Regions from separate parts of the Homo sapiens genome. Here all the other regions are linked to region 3. The links come from fine-mapping of genetic effects on gene expression. A gene starts in region 3. Each other region holds a variant in brackets. All regions are shown on one strand. Distances are between the middles of the regions. Region 1 has its middle 10 kb from the start of ATP9A. Region 2 holds the start of ATP9A (ATPase phospholipid transporting 9A (putative)). Region 3 holds the start of SALL4 (spalt like transcription factor 4). Region 4 has its middle 140 kb from the start of ZFP64.

Region 1 (4,162 bases), 24 kb before region 3:
CCAGTGTATATAAAAGCTACGTTTACACTATATCCTGTTAAGTGTGTAATAGCATTACATCTAAAAAACAATGTACAGGCCGGCCACGGTGGCTCACGCCTATAATCCCAGCACTTTGGGAGGCTGAGGCAGGCGAATCATGAGGTCAGGACTTCGAGACCAGCCTGGCCATCATGGTGAAACCCCATCTCTACTAAAAATACAAAAAATTAGCTGGGCATAGTGGCAGGCACCTGTAATCCCAGCTATTCGGGAGGCTGAGGCAGGAGAATTGCTTGAACCTGGGAGGCAGAGGTTGCAGTGAGCCAAGATCGCACCAGTGTACTCCAGCCTGGGAGACAGAGTGAGACTCCATCTCGGGAAAAACAAAAAACAAACCAAAAAAAAAAACAACGTACATACCTTAATTATAAATTCCTTTATTGTTAAAGATGTTAATGATCCTCTGAGCCTTCTGGAGTCGTAATTTTTTTGCCGGTGAAGGATCTTACCTTGATGTTGATGGCTGTTCACTGATCAGGGTGGTGGTTGCTGAAGGTTGGGATGGCTATGCCAATTTCTTTAAAATAAGACAACAATGATGTTGGCTATATTGATTCTTTATCTGAGATTTCTTTGTAACTTGTGATACTGTCTGAAAATATTTTACCCACAACAGGCCGGGCGCGGTGGCTCATGCCTGTAATCCCAGCACTTTGGGAGGCCGAGGCGGGTGGATCACAAGGTCAGGAGATCGAGACCATCCTGGCTAACACGGTGAAATCCCATCTCTACTAAAAATACAAAAAAAATTACTTGGGCGTGGTGGCAGACGCCTGTAGTCCCAGCTACTTGGGAAGCTGAGGCAGAAGAACCACTTGAACATGGGAGGCAGAGGTTGCAGTGAGCTGAGATTGCGCCACTGCACTCCAGCCTGGGTGACAGAGCGAGACTCTGTCTCAATCTCAAAAAATACTTTCTTTGCTCATCTGTAAGAAGCAGTTCTTTATTCATTCAAGTTTTCTCCTAAGATTGCCACCATTCAGTCACATCTTCAAGCTTCACTGCTATTTCCAGCTCTCTTGCTATCTCCATCATATCTGCAGTTACTTCCTCCACTGAATTTTGTTGTTTGTAAAGACAGGATTTCACTGTGTTGACTGGGTTGGTCTTGAACTCCTGGCTCTCAAGCCATCCTCCTCGGCCTCCCAAAGTGCTGGGATTACAGGCATAAGCCACGGTGCCTGGCTCTTTCACTGAAGTCTTGAACCCATCAAAGTCATCCATGAGGGTTGGAAGCCACTTCTTCCAAACTCCTGTTTATGTTGATATTTTGACCTTCTCCCATGAATTACGAATGTTTTTAACAACATCTAGAATGGTGAATCCTTTCCAGGTTTTCACTTTACTTTGCCCAGACCCATCAGAGAAATAACAAACTATGGCAGCTTACAAAATGTAGTATTTCTGAAATAATAAGACCTGGAAGTTGAAACTCTTAGAGGCATTTGAACCAGAGCCACTCCATCTCGAACAGGAGCTGGGGAAAATAAAGCTGAGACCTACTGGGCTGCATTCCCAGGAGGTTAAGGCATTCTTAGTCACAGGATGAGATAGGAGGTCAGCACAAGATACAGGTCATAAAGACCTTGCTGATAAAACAAGTTGCAGTAAAGAAGCCAGCTAAAACCCACCAAAACCAAGATGGCGACAAGAGTGACCTCTGGTTGTCCTCACTGCTACACTCCCACCAGCGCCATGACAGTTTACAAATGCCATGGCAACATCAGGAAGTTACCCTGTATGGTCTAAAAAGGGAAGGCATGAACAATCCACCCCTTGTTTAGCATATCATCAAGAAATAACCATAAAAATGGGCAACCAGCAACTCTCAGGGCTGCTCTGTCTATGGACTAACCATTCTTTCATTCCTCTGCTTTCCTAATAAACTTGCTTTCACTTTATGGACTCATCCTGAATTCTTTCTTACGTGAGATCCAAGAATCCTCTCTTAGGGTCTGGATCCAGAC[T/C]CCTTACCAGTAACAAAACCACTCCTTGATCCAGACTACAAAATGAATGTTGTGTTAACAGGCATGAAAAACAGTATTAATCTCAGTATTAATCTCCTTGTACATTTCCATCAGAGCTCTTGACAGATGCATTAGATGCATTGTTTTTTTGTTTTTTGAGACGGGAGTCTTCCTCTGTCGCCCAGGCTGGAGTGCAGTGGCGTGATCTCGGCTCACTGCAACCTCCGCCTCCCAGGTTCAAGCAATTCTCCTGCCTCAGCCTCTTGAGTAGCTAGGATTACAGGCGCCCATGACCACGCCCAGCTAATTTTTGTGTTTTTAGTAGAGACAGGGTTTCACCATGTTGGTCAGGCTGGTCTCGAACCCCTGACCTTGTGATCCACCCGCCTCGGCCTCCCAAAGTGCTGGGATTACAGATGTGAGCCACTGCGCCCGGCCTAGATGCATTGTTAATGAGCAGCCATAATTTTTGAAAGAAATCTTTTTTTTTTTTTTTCTGTGCAGTAGGTCTCAACAGTGGGCTTAAAATATTCAGTAAATCATGTGATAAACAGATATGCTAAACTGGGCGCGGTGGCTCACACTTGTAATCCCAAAACTTTGGAAGGCCGAGGCGGGTGGATCACTTGAGGTCAGGAGTTTGAGACCAGCCTGACCAATATGGTGAAACCCCATCTCTACCAAAAATACAAAAGGCAGCAGGTGCCTGTAATCCCAGCTACTCAGGAGGCTGAGGTAAGAGAATCACTTGAACCCAGGAGACAGAGGTTGCAGTGAACTGAGATTGTGCCACTGCACTCCAGCCTGAGTGACACAGAGACTCCATCTCAAAACAAAAATGAGATATGCCATCATCCAGGCTTTGTCATTCCATTTCCAGAGCACATGCAGAGTAGAAATAGCATCATTCTTAAAGGCCCTAAGATTTTCAGAATGGTAAATGAGCATTGCTTTAGCTTAATGTCACCACCTGCATTAGCCCCTAACAGGAGTCACCTTGTCCTTTGAAGCAAGGTGTTTTTTTCCTTTCTAGCTATGAAAGTCCTAGATGGCATCTTCTTCCAATAGAAGACTGTCTTGTCTACTTTGAAAATATGTTGTTTAGTGTAGCTACTGTAGTTATTGTAGCTAGATCTTCTGGATAACTTGCTGTAGCTTCTACATCAGCATTTACTGCCTTACCTTGCTTTTTTTTTTTTGTTTTCTTTGAGACAGAGTTTCACTCTTTTTGCCCAGGCTGGAGTGCGATGGCACAATCTTGGTTCACCACAACCTCCACCTCCCATGTTCAAGTGATTCTCCTGCCTCAGCCTCCCGAGTAGCTGGGATTACAGGCATGCACCTCCAAGCCCAGCTACTTTTGTATTTTTAGTAGAAATGGATTTTTCTCCATGATTGTCAGGCTGGTCTCGAATTCCCAACCTCAGGTGTTCTGCCCCCCTCAGCCTCCCAAAGTGTGAGGATTACAGGTGTGAGCCACCACGCCCAGCTGCATTTTTATATTAGGAAGATGTCTTCTTGGGCCTGGTGCAGTGGCTCATGCCTGTAATCTCAGCACTTTGGGAGGCTGAGGCGGGTGGATCATCTGAGGTTGGAAGTTCGAGACCATCCTGACCAACATGGTGAAACTCCGTCTCTACTAAAAATACAAAAATTAACTGGGTGTGGTGGTGCGCACCTGTAATCCCAGCTACTCGGGAGGCTGAGGCAGGAGAATCACTTCAATGCGGGAGGCAGACGTTAAAAAATTAAGCAGTACTTAATTTTTTTTTTTTGAGACAGAGTCTTGCTCTGTCGCCTAGGCTGGAGTGCAGTGGCGTGATCTCGGTTCACTGCAATCTCTGCCTCCCAGGTTCAAGTGATTCTCCTGTCTCAGTCTCCTCAGTAGCTGGGATTACAGGCGCAATGCCACCATGGCCAGCTACTTTTTTGCATTTTAGTAGGGACAGGGTTTCACTGTGTTGCCCAGGCTGGTCTCGAACTCCTGAGCTCAGGTAATTTGTCCACTTTGGTCTCCCAAAGAGCTAGGATTACAGGCGTGAGCCACTGCGCCTGGCCTATAAACAAATTTAAACAGAGAAAAGGTACAGTAAAAATTAGTATTACAATCTTATGGGACCATGGTTGTATATGCGGTCTCTAACTGACAAAAC
Region 2 (4,154 bases), 36 kb before region 3:
CACAACCTCCAAGACCACGAACACATTAATATCAGTGAATCTTTGTTTCCCTGTCAATAAAATGGGAGAATTTTTTTTTTTGAGATGGAGTCTTGCTTCTTCACCCAGGCTGGAGTGCAGTGGTACAATCCTGACTCACCGCAACCTCCACATCCTGGGTTCAAGCAATTCTCCTGCCTCAGCCTCCCCAGTAGCTGGAATTACAGGCACCACCACCACACCCGGCTAATTTTTGTATTTTTAGTAGAGACAGGGTTTCACCATGTTGGCCAGGCTGGTCTCGAACTCCTGACCTCGAGTGATCCGCCCACCTTGGCCTCCCAAAGTGCTGGGATTACAGGCTTGAACCACCACATCTGGCCCCTAAAATGGGAGAATTAACTCCAAAAACTCACATGGTTGTTGTAAGGATTAAAACAGCCCTATTTATCTCAAGTGTCCAGCAGACAGCCTGACCCATTACATATTACTTTTTTCTTCCTTTAACCACCCACCCACTTTAGCCCTCACGCTGCCATCCCCCAGCCCCTAGTTCTATTTCAGGAAGCTCCTCCATCTCTCTGTGCTTCTCAAGAGTTTCTAAACTTCAGGATTCCACCTTGATGTTGCTACTCCTGAAAATGCAGATTATATACAAGAGCATTTACGCAAATGCACAGCAACCCTGATACACAATTTGAATCCAAATCCATGTCACTGTTTAAGAAATAGATTGGCCAGACACAGTGGCTCACATCTGTAATCACAGCACTTTGGGAGGCCAAGGTGGGTGGATCACCTGAGGTAAGGAGTTCGAGACCAGCCTGACCAACATGGAGAAACCCCATCTGTACTAAAAATACAAAATTTGCCGGGCATGGTGCATGCCTGTAATCCCAGCTACTCAGGAGGCTGATTCAAGGAGAATCGCTTGAACCTGGAATGCGGACGTTGCAGTGAGCCGAGATCGTGCCAGCCTTGGCAACAAGAGTGAAGCTACATCTCAAAAAAAAAAAACAGAATTAGATTAGTTCCAGGCCAAGCACGGTGGCTCACGTCTGTAATCCCAGCACTTTCGGAGGCCAAGGCAGGTGGATCACCTGAGGTCAGGAGTTCAAGACCAGCCTGGCCAACATGGTGAAACAACTCTCTCTACTAAAAATACAAAGATTAGCCGGGAGTGGTAGTGGGCACCTGTAATCCCAGCTACTTGGGAAGCTGAGGCAGAAGAATCGCTTGAACCCAGGAGGCAGAGGTTGCAGTGGGCCAAGACCAAGGCATTGCACTCCAGGCAACAAGAGTGAAACTACATCGTCTCAAAAAAAAAGAAAGATTAGTTCCAAAGCTGGTAAATTCTAAAGGGGCTGTGATGCTCCATTCCAACGCAACCTAGAAAACTTACTTTTAAATAAAATTATCTGCACCACTCCCTCTGGCTCTCCATATGAACGGCTCATGTTTCTATCACGCTAATGATCACTTTTGAACAATATTTGCATTTTTCTTTCATGTACTGACTCAAAAGTTCTCAACTCTGACTGCATGTTAAAATCATCAGGGGAGCTTATTAAAATATATAGATAGAAACCCAGGTCCCACCCTAAATTCTTATTTCAAAGGTCTAGAATGAATCAGAAAAGGCTAGTTAAGTTTCCCTGGTGATTGCAATGAACAGCCAGGGTCAGGACACCCACACCTGTTGGGCAGGTCTTCTTTAATTCATCCTTGCATCCCCATCAGCTGGAGTGGCTCCTGCACATAGTAGGCGTCTCATAATTGCTCATGGCACAAATTAATAACCACTGGATTTTAGACTCCACTGATCATATTAATTCATCACAGTATTTAC[G/A]GAGGATGTACGATGTACCAGGCACTGTTCCAGGCATAGTGTTCAAGTCAATTGTCATCATTAAAACGAAGGAGGCCGGGCGCGGTGACTCACGCCTGTAATCCCAGCACTTTGGAAGGCCGAGGTGGGTGGATCACGAGGTCAGGAGTTCAAGACAAGCCTGGCCAAGATGGTGAAACCCCCGTCTCTACTAAAAATACAAAAACTAGTCAGGCGTGGTGTCGGGCGCCTGTAATCCCAGCTACTCGGGAGGTTGAGGCAGAGAATTGCTTGAACCCGGGAGGCGGAGGTTGCAGTGAGCCGAGATCTCGCCACAGCACTCCAGCGTGGGCAACAGAGGGAGACTCCGTCTCAATAATAATAATAATACTAATAATAATAAACGCAAAACAGAGAAGGGAGGAGTGAGGGAACTATCTTTGGGTCAGACAATCCGGAGTTCAATCTCCATTTTGCAGTCTTCCCTATAGCCCTTAACCTCCGTAACCTCCAGTTTCCTCCTCTGGGTAATATCAGTGAGGCCTCTTCTTCGGAGGATTCAGGAAGCCAGGGACAAAGACCCCACAAAATGGCCGCCAGCACCATTCTTTTTTTTTTTTTTTTTAATTCCACTGACACCTGGTGAAGCCACCCTTATGGTTCACTCCACCCGCCGCGTCTCCTGTTCCGAGCAACTGACGCTGCAATAAGCGGCCGCCACCGGGAAATGCCCAGAGAGGACCAGACGCCCGAGGAAGGGCGGAGCAGAGCGGCCGCAGGCCCCGCCCAACACCGCGCTCAGCCTCCCGCGGGCTCCAGCCTCACCTGCGCGGCCTGTGGAGCTGCACATCTCCAGGCCCCGCCCCCCAGAACTCTGATTGGCGGGTCTAGGCGGGGGCCGGGAAATCTGCATTTGCACCAGCGCCCACCCCCGTCCTTCCCACCCCCGCCCCTCACGCCCAGGTAAGTCTATGGCAGGCGATACGAGAGCCCCGCAAACCTCAACGCGTCACGCTGCCATCCTCCGAACAGGAAGACGGCGAGGCGCAAAATACCAACCCGTCCCCTCTTCCCAAATGCAGAAAAACCCTTGCCTGTTCCGCGCCTAAGCTGCCCTCGGGGTCTCCTACTGCGGGAAGGGCACAGCAGGTGGCAGCCCCTGTCCCAGCCGTGGGATTCCTTCCCCGAAATTGTGGGGGGAGAACACAAGGGGTAGTGTCACCAAGCGGCCAGTAGGAGACCCTCCCACCCTCCTGCGACTGCTGGTTCGGGTCCACCCCGGGCGGAGGGGGAAGGGGCCACCGGAGCGCAGGTGGTCTCGGCGCAGCCTCCTGGGGCTGGGACCCAGGGGCGCTGATGGGGTACCCCGAGGCGTAGGCCGCGCCCCCCTAAAAGCTGAGCATATCTGGGCTCCCGAGTAATGCTCCAAGCGCAGAGCTCGGTGTGACACTGACCAAATTGTTACCTCAGATATTAATTACGGACAGATATTAATTACGGAACAATAAAACGGTGAGAAAGCACGGCTGATCCGAATTCCGCGAGTGTGTAAACAGCACTGGGGCGGGCCCGGCTTCTCGGGGTTTCTAAAGGAAGGTGGGCAAGGAGGCCCAGGCAACCGGGCGCTCGAACCCCAAAGGGCCGGCATCAGGCTAGGTGCCGCCCGGGGCTGAAGCGCAGGGACCCCCTCCCCACCTCCCCGCCTCCCCAGCCCTGCCCCAGGCTCATGGCGCCGGGCGCGGCGCGCGGCCAACCTGTCAGGCCCGGCCAGGCTGGCCCGAGCGCCGGGCTCCGGGAGGCGCGGACAAAGGAAAACACGGGCCCAGGCCCACTCACCCGGCGCGGGGCCTGCTGTCCATCCGCTTCTTCTGGCGCACCGGCTGCAGCGGGATGTTGTCCGTCATGTCGGCGGCGCCGCCCGCCTTGGCCGCCGCGCCCCCCGCGCCGCCTGGGCCGCCGCCCGGTCCGGCCTCCGCGCCGCCGCCCGCCGGCGCCGCGCCGCCCCGGGGGAGGAGGCGGCGGCAGCGGGCGGGCCGGGCCCGCAGCGAGGGGGCGAGCTCGCGAGCGCCGGGCCACGCGCGGAGCGCCCGCGCGGCCCGACCGACGGACACGGGCGCACCATGGGCCCGAGCTCCGCGCTGCGCCCGCTCGCTCCGCGCCGCGCCGCGCCTGCCACGGGGGGCGGCCGGGCCGTGTCCGCGCCGCCGCGACCGCTGCAGTGTCCCCGCCCCCGGCCCGCGCCCGCGCCCCCCACGCGCGCCCACCCGGCCACGCGCCCCCCGCCCACGCCCGCCGTGCGCGCACCCTGCCACCGCACCCCCCGCAAAATCCCACATTCACAATCACA
Region 3 (4,131 bases):
GTGGCGACCGTCTTCTCGGGAAACCCCGGGTATCAGAGATGGTCTCTGAGAGTCCTCCGGGGTTGCCGCGCACACCCGTCTGCTGCAGGGAAATTAGAAAGCAGGCGGGGAGCGGAGCGACGAACAAGGCCGGAGAGGAGGCTACAAATCCCCCCTCCCCCCACGCGCACGCTAAAAACTTATCAGGCGACAATTTGGCGGGCCGGGATGGAGACGAGATAGTGGAAAACCGCCTCGCTCCTAAAACCTCCGCGGTGAAGTGATGAAGTGGGAACAGAGTTGGCCCCGCCGTTCCTGGCGCGGCTGGGGTCCCGAACTCCCCTCGATCTGGGAAACGCTGGCCGCGGAAGCGTGGGCCAGGTCAGCCGCGGGAGTTCGCTCTGGCCCCCCACCTCTCCCCTTTCACACCCAAGCGCAAATGTGGAAAGCCGAGCGCTCCAGAAAAGCCACGCAAAACGGGAGGCCGGTGCACCCCAGTGGGGCTGCCGCGCGCCCGCCACCCCGGCCACTGGGGGCTCGCACCCTCGGGCTTGCCGCGGTTATTTTTAGGAAGTCGGAAATCAAAGATGGCTGGAGGTCAGGCCCCGAAAGGTTAGGGCGAAGATCGGCAGGCGGCGCAGCCCGGGCAGAAAAGGCGAAATCCAGAAAAGAAAAAAATTTTAAAGGGAAACATTGAGCCCTCCTCCCCCACCTCTCTGGGCCCTCCAATCCCCTGCGCAGCGCGGGTGGCCCGCACCCCAGCTCCTGAGGGTGGGGAGAGGTCGCGCCCCCTCCCCCCACTTGGCCCGGGAGGGGCGCGTGCAACAGATCGTCCTCCTCCGGGGGGTCTTCCAGGGGTGCGCCCCTCCTCCAGCCTCCAAGAAAAGCCCCAAGGGGCTGGTGGAGAGGGTGGGGATCCCCCGGGGTTCTTTCTTTTGAGAGCGACGCGAGGGAGGGGGACCTAAGTTACAAGGGGGGGGGGTAACACCAGTGAGGGGAGTGGAACCAATTAAGTGAGGGGCAGAGGACAAGGAGAAGGGAACCTTTCGGGAGCGAGAACAGAGGAGCGAGTGGGGGTCAATTTTACAATTAGGGGAGAAAGCTGGGGGTGAAACTTACACAAGAGGGGAGAAGAGGAAAAAAGTGTGAAATGTGCAAAAGGCGGGGTGGTGGGGAGAGGAGGAGACCTCTCCTCCCGGGCACTGAGCCCCCAAATCTCGGCTCCTGAATTTGCGCTGGACGCCGCCCGCTCCCCGAAGCCTGCGCCCTCGAGGATCCCGCGTACGTCCGGGAAGCTCCCCTCCCCGGGCGGGCGCCCCAGCCCCACTCACCCAGCTCCCCCGCCGCGGGCGCCGCTGGGGCCGCATCTGCAAACTCCGGGGTCTGCTGCTGCGGCTGCTGCTCGCCCTGGTCCTCCTCCGAGTTGATGTGCTGGGGTTTCGCCTGCTTGCGCCTCGACATGGTGCGAGCATCGGGGCGCCGGGAGAGCCGCAGTTATTTGCCCTCTCCGCCACAAATTCCTGGAGTTGGGAAATTTACCCCCCTTCGGCCGGAACGCGCATGTCCCAGTAATTATTATTATCAATAATGCATTGCGATTTATCATGAGCCCTGACAGCTGATTGGCCTGGGTCCAAGACCTCAGAGATCATTTAAATAAGCCCTCATTGATCAGGGAGGGGTGAGGCATTCTGGGCTTTGTAGTCCGGGCCTACTTGTGACAAAGGCGTGTTCATCAGGGGAGCGCAGCTAATTAGCATCCGGGCTCAGATTGGCTGGGGCGGGGACGAAATCAGAGGGGGACCCATCCTTGCTCCAGCTATCTCAGTCCTTGGAGAGGAAAAGAAAATGGGGAGAAATGCGTACTCATTAAAAAGTAGGAGCTTACGTAGAAGTTTTGGAACGGCTTTATTTGGTAGTTACTTGCTCCAAAGATTACTTGGTAAGGTTGATGTCCACCAGCCGAGAAGGGAGATCTCTTCACAGTGGAATATTTTGGCTCAGTTTTCACATCTACACGCACACACATTCCCCCAAACCTGAGATGTGACCCGTGTCCCCTCCCATCTTTTTGATTAAAAATGTTTAAGTTGAGTCTCGAGATAACTGAAGAATGATGAATGGTGGTGTTTTCAGCCCTCCCACCCATCTCAACTCTTAAAGTGAGCTCGGAACTTCCAAAATTTCAGATACCCCACCACCACCATGACTTACCTCCTTTAAAAGCTGATTAATAGCCTCCAGGATTCCTGTTCACAAAGACTGGTTTGTGGTTACAATGCAAACCTTGATTTTTTTTTAACTTCAAAATGACTGGCTACTAAATATAGAAATGGCAAATGATAAGCAAGCATAGTCAGAGATAATATCAAAACAGCAAGCAATTGCATTTTTTTCCCCAGGAGCCATAAATGCCTGATAACATCATATTTTATTACTGAGACAATGCTCTTGCATCTCCCATGGAATGGCAATGGGGCACTGTCACAGTATCTGGTTGTTACTAATCACTATTGGAATTTTTTTGTGCAATACACACATTATTACAGAAAAGGTGTATCGTTCAAAGTGATTGTATCATTGACACATGATGCCTGGAATTTTTTAAAGTGGGGCTTGTGTGTGTGTATATGATATATTACATGTATACACATTTATACCGTAAATTCATGTATACTTAATTTGGCTAACTGCTTTACACAATGTACATGCTCAATAAATGTTAAATGAATGATGAAATCATCAACCTGCTAAGTCTTTGATTGGTCTTTCCATAACTGCTCTGGGCATGCGTCTTTGTTTGGCATTTACTTCATTGTAAGGGACTGTGCAGATATAAACCCTCCCTCCACATTTGTGCATTGCATTCTCTTGATTAGTTATTCATCACGTTCCCAGCTTGTAAACTCATCAGGAATACAAGCAAAATGGAATGCTGGGCTCATCAATGTGTTCACCTGGGTATTTGGACAACCCAAGGCAGAAAATAAATCAGCTTGATCATCTTTTTTATATTCGTGGCCATCAGTAAAAACTTGTTGAAGGAAGATTAACCTTCAATTTTTGAGTCTCTGAAAAAGTCTTGCCTTATTTTATGTATAATATTTAAAGCAAGTAAGACAGAATTATAGCCAACAGCCAGATTGAAAAGGTAAGAATTTGGTTTAATAATACATAGAAGCAGTTTAGAATTCTGATACTGAGTAAAAAGGCCAATTAGCACCTGCCTTGCTGACTAATCTACTAATATTCTCAACACCTTTTCTGTGTAAGATAGTGTGGCAGGAGATCTAACTTACAAATCTAAACGAATGTGCAGTGGGTTTATGGCTCAAAAAATACTATTGGGTTAAGGAAAATTTCATTTATATAGTTGTTTATATTTATTTTAGTAGATGATAGTTGTAACATGTTAGCCTTACTACGAGACAAAATTGTGCCGCTTGACTCTCCAAGTGATAGTAATAATAATAATTGATTGAGCCCCTTGTACATGCCACAGACTGCATTAAATGAATGCACACCGCCTTGTTTTATCTTCCCATGGAGGTTGGCCCTATTGTCCTCTCCATTTTGAAACTGAGGCTCAAAGACATGAAGTGACTTAATTAGAAACTGGCTGAGCTGGTGGTCAGTTTCTAAGCCGGTGGTCAGTTTCTAAGTCTGACTCCAAAATTCTATCACATCCTAATACCTGTCTTCCAACTATAGCTGAATATAGAGAAGATAGCTAAAGAAGAAAAATCGGAGTACAGTAAACTAAATTTAAAGTGTCCTAGAAAAATCTTGGGTCTTCAGAAATCACTCCAACAGATGAAGTCAAGAAGTTTCCCTCAAATGGAAACCTTCCACAAATGTCATATCAAGAAAAGCAGGACACAGTACATGTTTTGAATCTACCCCCAGTTTAACAGCTGCAGCCAGGAGCCAGTTGGTGGAAAATAAAGTAAGTCCTAGAGCAAAGCAGGGGATGAACGGAGGGCATAGCAACAGGCAAGTCCGTAATCAAAAGTTGTTTCAGGCTGAGCACAGTGTCTCACGCCTGTAATCCCAGCACTCTGGGAGGCCAAGACTGGCGGGTCACCAGAGGTCAGGAGTTCGAGACTAGCCTGGCCAACACGGTAAAACTCCATCTCTACTAAAAATACAAAA
Region 4 (4,162 bases), 250 kb after region 3:
TTGCTATATTTGATGTAGCAAGTACTCCTAGAGAAAAGCACGAAGCCTCCACATGGCTTTACTCCTCACTGGAGGGTGACTAGGCTAGAAAATGAGATGAGTATTCAAAATATTGATCCCAAAGAGTTCCTATCCTTTGACGAATAAGTAAGAAAATGCATGTGAAAATGGAAAAAAAAAATTTAAAAAAATCGCAAACATCTTTAAAGTAATTTCCAAATCTTAATTATATATGTACATTTTTTAAAAGATTGTCTCATTTTATTTTTTGTATTGAGGTCAAATTCACTTAACAAAATCAACCATCTTAAAGTATACAATTAAGAGACACTTAGTCATTCATGATGTTGCACAGCCCCCAAGCTGGATTATCTTCACAAACATGTACATTGCACAGGGCTCTGGGCACGATGGGCTTTGCTATTTTATCGTATAGTCATTTAGTGTCCCTCAAGGACACTTGGCTCCTGAAGATTTTCCCAACCCTAGGCCTCTGGCTCATACTGGGTTTCCTGCCTCTTCTACATCTTGTCGTTGAATTTCAAAGCTTTATAACACACTAAACAAATTGCTATGGGTCTTAATTCACAGTCTCTTTGATATGTGGCTGGTTTATACAGCAAGTAAATGTCTGGGTCTCTGATTGGTTACAAAGCCAAAAATAATCCAGATAATGAGAAAATTTTAATTATAACCATACTTGGTTTTAAAGGCCCCCAGATTCTGTTTGTTTGCTTATTTATTTGAGACAGGGTTTCACTTTGTCGCCCAGGCTAGAATGCAGTGGTGCAATCATGGCTCACTGCAGCGTCGACCTCTCAGGCTCAAGTGATCCTCCCACCTCAGCCTCCCAATAGCTGGGATTCCAGGTGCACGCCACCATGCCCAGCTAATTTTTGGTGGAGACGAGGTTTTGCCATGTTGCCCAGGCTGGTCTTGAATTCCTGACCTCAAGTGATGCGCCCGCCTCAACCTCCCAAAGTGCTGGGTTTACAGGAATGAGCCACCTCGCCCTGAATATTTACATACAAACTCAAAATAATCTCCTCTGCCCTTTGTCAGGTTGTTTGATGGGGGATAGATTCAATGCTTACTGTTGAAAATTTCCAGAATAAATTTGGGCTCTATAACATTTAATACTTATAAGTGCACTGAATTATAGAAGACAGTTCAAAGCTTTTCCTATACTGATAATTTGAACTATCATTTCTTTTCAAATGCAAATAAGTTCTTTGGGGGTATTATTAGAAAAAAATTAAAACTCCATTATTTGCATCATAGTGTAGGAGGATTACTTTTTAAAATAATGACTGTTTTCACCCAAACCCCCGCCCTGCTTTAGCTTCCAGACAGGTAGTTAGAGATTCACAAAAAAAGAGAAATCCTGGCTATTCTTTGAAGCTACAAACAAGCCCTGCATTTCTGTATGTTCTTAGAAAAAGCTCTGGCCAGGCAGTTTTTTTGTGTGTGTGATCACACCAGTAGCATCACTGAGTTCAAAGTGGGGGGAAAACCCATTTTAACAATGCAAGAATTTCCCAAAGTCCAAACGCCCGGGCCACACCGCTCCCACAAATGGAAATAGTATCAGATCTGCATCATAATTGATCCTCCAGATTTCCACCCACAAAAGAAGGATGTGGTCAGTAAGAACAAATAACACAGGGGCCGCGGAGAGAAGCTTTTTTGCAAACTTTCCCCTCACTCCACCCACAAAAGTCAGGCAACCGACGTACATGTCAGCATAATCGCTCAAGATATGATC[G/A]CGTTTGAGGCTTATGAAATGTTATCAAACGCAGTGGACAAGCACATCGGCGATATTTCTTTTTTCCGCTGAGATGTGAACTGCTGATAAATATCCATGGTTGAGTTTTTTCCATACTTTGATTCTTCAAAAGCTAAGCCATTCAAGGTGTCAAGGCTTTTTGCCCCTGCCTTCCACAGACAACAAGGGGGAGAAAAAAGAAAAAAAGAAAAAAGAGGATGAAAATGAGGGGGAATAAGAGAAAAAAAAATGGACACAGATAAAAGAAATTAAGCGAGCCATAATGTCTGTGCTTTATTTTAACTGGGTTGTCCTGTCCCGCTGTGCAGCCCATAATCCAAGCTGGGAGAGAGGCCCCCGCTGGGTAGCTAATTAAAACAATTATAAATACAAAGAAGGTATCAATGGCATTCCAAGACTCAAACAAAGAGATAAAGCACTGAAGATTTAAATTGTCAATGGCCAGTCTCTTTAGGCAATTCTGAAGAGGAGTCAGTGTCCCCAAGTCCCCCGAACTCCTTTGTAAACTGACTTATGTTTGGTTACAGGGGACCCTCCTCCCTCCTTTTTGGGGGGCTTATCGACATGAAAATTCATCAGTGATGGAATTAAGGGAAGTTAATTTATAGGCTCACATACAGTTATTTGTCCTGGCGCGTCAGAATAGTGGACCTGAGTTTAAAATTAAAATCTAATCTGGAAAAAAGACCCCAGCCCTCCTTATTGAATCAGTATTTTTATTCGTATTTTTTGGCAAGAAATTAGATGCAGGTATCAGTATTTTTAAAGACAAGAAAACAAACAAAAAGATCTTTTAGCCCCAATTGAAAGTGACACAAACCGTTTTTTTTTTTTTTAAGTACTGTGGGCAACTTTAGGAATGTTAAAAATGTAGCAAGTGTGCTAGACTACTTTCTCAGTGTATTTTTATAAAATGATTTGCAGAATCAAACTTACCCAACAAAAATAGAAAGCTTTCCTAATTTCTTAGACCTAGGATTTCCCCTGCCTGCTTTCTGGCTTTTGTAGAGCACTTAAAGGAACACTCAAATCATACATGCTAAGAGATAGCAGCCCAGTGCAGTTTAAAGGGACTCTCAGCCTACAGTCTGAACGAATAGAATGGATCGCAGAAGTTTCCAGGTGGGTCCCTTGGAGAGGGTGGTCAGTTTGCTCTCAAGAGCTGGGTGTGATCAGCGACAGCCTGAGCTCCAGGGCCTGGCCAGTGTGCTACAGGAGAGAGAGCCAAAGGCCTCAGCTCTTAGAAGGCTCACTCGGCCTCAGCTCTTAGAAGGCTCACTCTGAAAAGGAGGTGGTGACAGCAACTCTGGTCCTTCTTTTCACCATGAAAGAAAGCGCAGTAACTGGTGTAACTGGTAAAAGCCAAAAGGGAGGGAGGCAATTAAGGTCGAGGAGACTGATAAGAACTCAGTAGGGGTCAGAGCCCTTCTCCTACTCCTTCACCCACCCTCCTCTGCTCCTTTCTCAGCTCCTCCCACTACCACTCCTTTTTCTTCTCCCCTCTTCCCCTCCTCCTTTTCCCTCCTTTTCTTCTTCTTCTAATTCCTCTTCCCTCTTTTTTTTTTTTTCTTTTTTTTGAGACGAAGTCTTATTCTCTTGCCCAGGCTGGAGTGCAGTGGTGTGATCTTGGCTCCTTCCAACCTCAGCCTCCCGGGTTCAAGCGATTCTCCTGACTCAGCCTCCCAAGTAGCTGGGATTACAGGCGAGTGCCACCATGCTGGGGTAATTTTTGTATTTTTAGTAGAGACAGGGTTTCACCATGTTGGCCAGGCCAGTCTCGAACTCCTGACCTCAAGTGATCCACCCACCTCAGCCTCCCATAGTACTGGGATTACAGGCGTGAGCCACCATGCCCGGCCTCCTCTTTTAATCTTCCTCCTCCTGGCTGGGCATGGTGGCTCACGCCTATAATCCCAGCACTTTGGGAGGCTGAGGCAGGCGGATCACGAGGTCAGGAGTTCGAGACCAGCCTGGCCAACATGGTGAAACCCCGTCTCTAGGAAAAATACAAAAAATTAGCTGGGCATGGTGGCGCATGCCTCTAATCCCAGCTACCTGGGAAGCTGAGGCAGGAGAATCGCTTGAACCCAGGAGGCAGAGGTTGCAGTGAGTGGAGATCATGCCACTGCACTCCAGCCTGGACGACAGTGTGAGACTCCGTCTCAAAAATAAATAAATCTTCCTCCTCCAATTCTTCTTCTTATCTTCCTTCTCCTTTATCTTCTTTTCCTTCTCTTCCTCCTTATACTTTTTTCCCTTCTTCCTCTTCTCCTTCTGCTTCTCCCCTTCCTCCTCCTTCCTCCTCCTCTTTCTCCTCTTCTTCCTTTTTTACTTTGCCTCTATTTGTAAGGAGATTGAGACTTTCTTCTTTAGGAA

The links.
Region 1: its variant is fine-mapped to the expression of SALL4 in whole blood (TOPMed, PIP 0.99). The same link has a PIP of 0.9 or more in blood mononuclear cells.
Region 2: its variant is fine-mapped to the expression of SALL4 in whole blood (TOPMed, PIP above 0.99).
Region 4: its variant is fine-mapped to the expression of SALL4 in whole blood (TOPMed, PIP 0.98).

Annotation. Positions count from the first base shown.
Region 1 is chr20:51,776,735-51,780,896 of GRCh38, forward strand. No RefSeq gene overlaps it. Among named protein-coding and RNA genes, the nearest start is that of ATP9A, 10 kb to the left of the region's middle. The variant T/C (reference allele first, on the strand shown) is at 2,010.
Region 2 is chr20:51,764,659-51,768,812 of GRCh38, forward strand. It overlaps ATP9A (ATPase phospholipid transporting 9A (putative)), which reads right to left and starts at 3,732. Exons shown (of 28, transcript NM_006045.3): 1 at 3,644-3,732. The coding sequence starts at 3,711. The variant G/A (reference allele first, on the strand shown) is at 1,829.
Region 3 is chr20:51,800,969-51,805,099 of GRCh38, forward strand. It overlaps SALL4 (spalt like transcription factor 4), which reads right to left and starts at 1,553. Exons shown (of 4, transcript NM_020436.5): 1 at 1,311-1,553. The coding sequence starts at 1,440. RefSeq lists enhancers at 1-614, 1,258-1,899.
Region 4 is chr20:52,046,402-52,050,563 of GRCh38, forward strand. No RefSeq gene overlaps it. Among named protein-coding and RNA genes, the nearest start is that of ZFP64, 140 kb to the right of the region's middle. RefSeq lists enhancers at 1,453-1,972, 1,973-2,490, 2,491-3,009, 3,010-3,527. The variant G/A (reference allele first, on the strand shown) is at 1,766.